Regions from separate parts of the Homo sapiens genome. Here region 2 is reported to be linked to region 1. The links are microRNA targets in miRTarBase. Many come from high-throughput screens and were not tested one by one. Region 1 holds a microRNA gene; the other region holds the end of a gene's coding sequence.

What was found. Region 1 holds the annotated microRNA hsa-miR-4762-5p (CCAAAUCUUGAUCAGAAGCCU, at 2,138-2,158, shown strand). A microRNA usually pairs through its seed, bases 2 to 8, with sites in the 3' UTR of a target mRNA and lowers its output. Matches are read on the target gene's strand: a 7mer-m8 pairs with bases 2 to 8, a 7mer-A1 pairs with bases 2 to 7 and ends in A, and an 8mer does both.
Region 2: the mRNA of ADGRG7 is a reported target of hsa-miR-4762-5p. Seed matches in the 3' UTR shown: 7mer-m8 at 2,284-2,290.

What each region holds. Positions count from the first base shown.
Region 1 is chr22:45,758,395-45,761,550 of GRCh38, forward strand. MIR4762 (microRNA 4762) reads left to right here and starts at 2,130; the gene lies at 2,130-2,204. The region is part of intron 9 of ATXN10 (ataxin 10); the gene reads left to right. RefSeq lists an enhancer at 1-271.
Region 2 is chr3:100,694,480-100,697,479 of GRCh38, reverse strand. ADGRG7 (adhesion G protein-coupled receptor G7) reads right to left here. Exons shown (of 16, transcript NM_032787.3): 16 at 2,001-2,736. The coding sequence ends at 2,479. Among named protein-coding and RNA genes, the nearest start is that of TFG, 14 kb to the left of the region's middle.

The DNA.
Region 1 (3,156 bases):
ATATTCATGGCTTGAGCTATAGCCACTGACTTTGTGCTTGGAACAAAATACATAATTCTTTTTGGTTCAAAAGATTAGATTCAAATTATTGGTCATCAGAAACTGAAGTTTCCTAAGGCATATCACACGTAATTCAAGGTTGCTTTGATGTGTTATTCTGCTAATCCACAACCATGGAAGTTCCTGGTTAGTGCAATGTTTCATGCTCTGACAGCTATCTTTAAGATGTTGTTTTTGGGTTGCCAGGTGTTCATTTAAACACACTGGCCATGTGTTTGCACACGCACATGTGCATACACATAGCCACTGCGGAGCGCCAGGAGCTGTAACTGAACGTGGACTTGATAGAGCAGTATGCGATGTTTTTGTCTTCAGGGCAAGCTCTTGATGCATAGCTTCATGTGACATCTCGTTTATAACAGCCTGAGGCATCAGTAATCTTTATAGCAAGAATTCTAGTGCTGTGTTATGCATACCAAGCTTACCGTTTATTCTGCCCAGTAAATACATGGCTTTTATGGAGTCATAAATCATGACAGTAGGAGTCATACCTCTCCAAAAAAGAAGAGATTTAAATCTTTAGAGTTAACAAGATTTAATGTAATTTAGACATTATTCTTACTTAGAAGTACCATTCTTATTTAAAGGCAGTATATCTCATATCTTTAAAGATAACTTTAGAAACTTACTGCCAGAGAAACAAATATTGATTAAGAGCACACTGTGTGCCAAGCATTATGCGAGGTGCTGGAGAGAAGGAAGGGGAAGAAAAGGTCCTCACCCTCAAGTAACTTGAAGCTTAGAGGGACAATGATAAATAGTAAAAGATTCTAGAGTCCGGGCATGGTGGTTCACACCTGTAATCCCAACACTTTGGGAGGCTGAGGTGGGCGGATCACCTGAGGTCAGGAGTTCAAGACCAGCCTGGCTAACATGGTGAAACCCTGTCTCTACTAAAAATACAAAAAGTAGCCGGGCGTGGTGGCGCATGCCTGTAATCCCAGCTACTCGGGAGGCTGAGGCGGGAGAATCACCTGAACTCGGGAGGCAGAGGTTGCAGTGAGCCGAGATAGCATCACTGCACTCCAGCCTGGGCAGAGCAAGACTCCGTGTCAAACAAACAAACAAAAAAGATTCTAGAGCAGTCTGATCAGGGTGAGGGTTCCGTACTCTTCTTGTGCCATGAAGCAGGAGGAAAGGCCTCCTGAGGGAGCTGAGGCTGCACGAGGATGAGCAAGGTTTCATAATGTCCTCCAGAGGCCAGTTTACCAAGCTGCATCAGCTCCTCCCTCCCAGCCACCCTGCCCTTCATAAAGCTCTAGTTTTGTAGGGGATGGGGTGGGATGGGGTCACACCTCAGCTGCCGGCATGAGCTAAGGGACCATATAACAGTCAGCACTGTCCATCGCTTGCTTCTCTCTCTTTCTAATTTACATACAGCTAAACACAGATTTTTAATGAATGGCTGATAAGTTTTGACAGATGTCTGCACCTGTGTAATTATCACCCCAGTCAAGGTACAGAGAGCACCTCTATCCCCTCAGAAAGTTTTTTCCATGCTGGCTGTTGTGTGCCAGTGTGCCAGGAGAGCATGGGGCAGGGGAATGATGGCCCTAAGAAAGGAAGGAGGAACAGGGGGAATCTTGAATTACATTCTTTCCCCACGTGGAGATAGATTTGTGCTAATTCCACAACGTGGAACATCCTCCTTCGTTTGCTTAGACTTCCCTGGGAGCAGTAGCCCATGTACTGGTGGCCTAGCTCAACTGTGGCTTGGTTCTGGGCCTGTAAAGCCATCTTTCCCACCTACAGATGACATTCCCTATCTTCATCATGTGCTTTTAGTCAGGTTTCCTGCGGGCCAGATGCATCTGAGAGTGTGCCCTCATTAATATGGGACTCTGTGTATGTCCAGCACATGTGGGGTTTATTCACGTACCAGTGATTATTATTCAACATCGTTCCCTTTAGTGCAGCAAGCACTTTCTGAGTGCTTACCATGTGCCACTTTCTGTGAACCTCTGCAGTTCAACAGTGGAGTCAGAGGCAGTCCTTGTTCTCAAGTAGCTCATGATCTACTGTGGGAGACAGATGGCTAGATGATAGGGTGTAGTCATATCCCATTATTTCTGATACCCCAAATCTTGATCAGAAGCCTTGATCAGAAGCTAGGAAGGCTTCTGATCAAGATTTGTGGTGTCAAGAATAACAACGATTACAGCAATAGTAGTTGCTTATTGAGTGTGTCCTGTGTCCTAGGCACAGTTCTGAGTATTCGTCTCTTACCTCATTTAATGATGATACCTCTCCCATGTTGCAGATGAGGAGACTGAGGGCCAGAATGGTTCAGTAGTGTACCCAAGGCCACACAGCTGTTAAGTGGCATGAGAAAGAAAGAAACTTTCATTTTAAGCCTCTTAGATTTTTGTGGATTGTTTGTTACTGCAGCACGAACCAGCCCATCCTCACTGATAAGAGCCCCAGTGTGCGGAGTGGATTCCTGAGCCAGTTAAAAGGTTGCTACAGCAGTGGAGGCCTGGTTGGAGGGTGGTGATAAGCCTGGAAATAAAAGGACATATGTGAGAGACAGTAATTTGATAAAGAGTAATGAAAGAGGAAGCTTTCTTTCAGGTAGCTTATTCTGTTTCATTATTGTTGTTTTCCTTTTGGGAAAGAAGTTGAATTTTCATTGTTGGCTTATGTTTTCAAGGGTGACCTCAGTATTTTATTTTATTTTATTTTTTTGAGACGGAGTCTTGCTCTGTCGCCAGGTTGGAATGCAGTGGCGTGATTTCGGCTCACTGCAACCTCCACCTCCCAGGTTCAGGCGATTCCCCAGCCTCAGCCTCCCAAGTAGCTGGGACTTTAATGTTTTTATATTGGTGATTTTGAGCAGAGACTGTATTACCATCTAAAACACTACAAGCCTAGCATGTAAGCTCCATGTCTGTTTGCTCCTCATTCTCTCCAGGGCCCCTGGCACAGTTCCGGGCCCACAGTGAGTGCTCTGTAAACTTTTAGGGATGAACAAATGAATATTTTTAAATCTGTTCATTGTTTTCACAGTTAAACTTTTCTAAGCACTTATGTAATACTGTGTTTACTTAATTTTCATTTCTCACCAACCTTTATGGAAGACTAGGTGATAACTGGTTA
Region 2 (3,000 bases), not on the chromosome of region 1:
AGTTCCCTGATCCCCGTCACAGGGCATGTGACAGGGGTGTGGCTCGCTGGGCTCCCTGCCTCCTAGGCGGAACATGCAGACAGGCAGGTGAAGAGGTCGTGGGGAAAGCCTTTGGGCCCCAACCCCACAGCACCGTCTATGGGTGGGTGTCTGCCACTCCCAGAGCCCAGGTGGTTGTGTGTTACAGTGTGCGCTTTCAGCTTTGCCATCTGCAGACAGCTTGTGTTAATCAGTTCAATAAGCCCTCTGCCTTATCGCCAGGGCAGAGGGCCAGTGTGATAGCTTTCTGTATCCTGAGTTCTTACCCAGTGTACCGGCAAAATCAAATCACACGTGGGCTTGAAGGATGAGTGCAAGGTTTTACTGAGTGGTGGAGGTGGCTCTCGGTGAGGTGGATGGGGAGCTGGAAAAGGGGAATGGAGTGGGAAGGTGATCTTCCCCTGGAGTCTGGCTGTCCTTGGCCAACATTCAGAAGCCTCTTCCCTCCTTCTCTGCCACACCACCCCACCATTCTCCACCGCTCTTTTCCCCTGCTCTTCTCGATGTTCAGCCCCTTATGTGTGTGTCGCTAAGGTCTCGGGTTTATACGGACACAGGATGGGGGTCGTGGTGGGCCAGAGTGGCCTTGGAAAATGCAACATTTGGGCATGAAAACAGGAGTGCCTGTTCTCACTTAGGTCCATGGGAGCAGACCCCAGGGTGGAGCCCTCACCAGGGACCCTGCCCTTCTCTACTCAGCACTTCCCTGCCCCCACCCATATCACTTGTTCTAAATAGACCTAAAGTTAGCATTATCATATATTTCATAACTCAAACCATGACACTTGAAGGTAAAAGGGGCTGCTAGTAATGCTTAACTCAGAAAAACAGGCACAAATTGGGACTTGCCCAGGCAAACTAAAACACATAGTAATCCTACCAACTCGGTCCTTGGACTTTACATTAACTGATCCATTAAATTACCTTCACCTTTAACCTAATTTGAGTTGGGTTTCTATCATTAAACTGAAAATTGCTGACCGGTGCATGAGACAATGATTTAAATCAAAGGAATTATTTCCTAGTGGTAGGATTCATTTCAGGGTAGACAGAAGAATATCCATGTTCACCTGAATTAGTCACCACAATTGCATGTGGAGCTTGCACATTTATAGTACAGATATTTCAGCAACATTTTATGGAATTTTAGTTACTATGCCCCAAAAGTGCTGAAAAACGTGCAAAGAAAACAACTGTAATTACAAAGGGAAACACATACACTTACCCTCAGGCTAAATATGGCTCTTTGGTGATTTTTTTTTTTTAACATTTAAAGTGGCCCTAACTTAAGCTTAATTTTCATCTGAATACAAATTTTGAGTCAACCACATCTTATCATTTTCCCTGTGCCCAGCTACTATTTAGGTGCAGCCCTATGATGCCACCAAGAACACTGGCTTTTGAGGTCTGCTTTTATTCTTTATTCTCTTCCCTTTACTTTTTTCTGTTCTCCTATAAATATAGGCTCTTGTTGGCTTGCCCAGGAACCCAAAAGTCTTCTGCAACTATTTCTCTAGAAAACACACATTCTTTAGGGAGTGCCAAGCCCACATGACATTTGTTAATCTCGGAATTCCGTGCACTGACAGCAGCTGTCTTGTTTATGGCAAAACAGAAAACAGCAATTTAAAGACTATATATCCTAAGTCCAGTGGGAATGCTCACCACCCAAATAGAGGCCATTTTTTTTAATGAGGAAGCCATTCATAATTCAAGTGTTTGACTTTCCATGAGCAGTTAAATCTTTTAAAAGCCATAAATGATGATTATGACTAACTTCTCATTTTGGGGGTCTCAGTGCCACTTCAGTGAAAGAGCAAATATATTAAGAACTGGAAGGAAATATCCATTTAGTAACAAACTAACCTGTCTCGCTGCCCATTTCTTACAGAGCCAATTCTCCTGGTCACAAAACACACTTTTTTTTAAACAGAAAAAAATATCGCTTTTCAAAGTTTGAATTGGTGCCAAATTCTTCATTGGAAATAAAAGTACAAGCACATACGACTGTAAAATATTCAGAGGTCAAAAGTTTAATACATACAAGCAAATCCCCACACACTGTTCATCAGGAGTCATTTTGTTCTGGAAGGTAAAGTTTTCTCTTTGTGTCCTTTATAGTAACTTGTAAAAGAATTTGTTATAGGTTCTACATTTTTGTCAAAGTGTGTCACAAAGATTTAACGATATAAGGAACAATGGTACTCTTGTATGTTGTGTGAAATTCTTCACCTTATTCAAGTACAAATCTATTGAAAAATAGAAAAACTACCAAGTCCATTATGCCGAATAATAATAAACAACAGGTTTTATCTAATTCTTAATCCTGAGCAAAATACATTGAGGAAGACTTTCTGAGAGGACTGGGAAATAAAGGAGAGAAACAGATAAAACTCAAACGAGGTGATTAAAAAGACCACAACAGGTAAGTTTTACTGTCTAGATGCTTTCCTTTGCATTGTCACTTTCAGAGAGTGTGATTTCCTCAGTACTCGGAGAGGTTTCCAGTAGCCTAAAGCGTTCATGTAAGGTTGGCAATGACCTGAGGAAATTATACATCTTTACACGCAGCCTCGGCCGCGTCACTGAAGGCAATGACTTCCTTCTCCCAATAGACGATAGCAACATCAACACTTTGGAAGCTTCACTCTGGAAGACTTTTGTTCTAACAGTGTACAGGATAAAAATTTGCAATCCCTGCAGATAGAACAAAAGTTTAATGTTGGGTAAGTGCTGAGATACAGTATCAAGGAAGACATTTTATTTCACTCTGCCACCCAACCTTCTCATCTGCACGGCACTTCCCCAACTTGAATTTGCCAGTGTGCAGCTGCCATGCACTTTTTAATCTAAGAGGGTTGAGGCAAAGTTTTCCCATATACAAAGACCTACATGTAACAGTACAATAGCAGATATAGAAGACCCGAGTTCAGGTCCTGGGTTGCCACTAGCTGGCTGTGT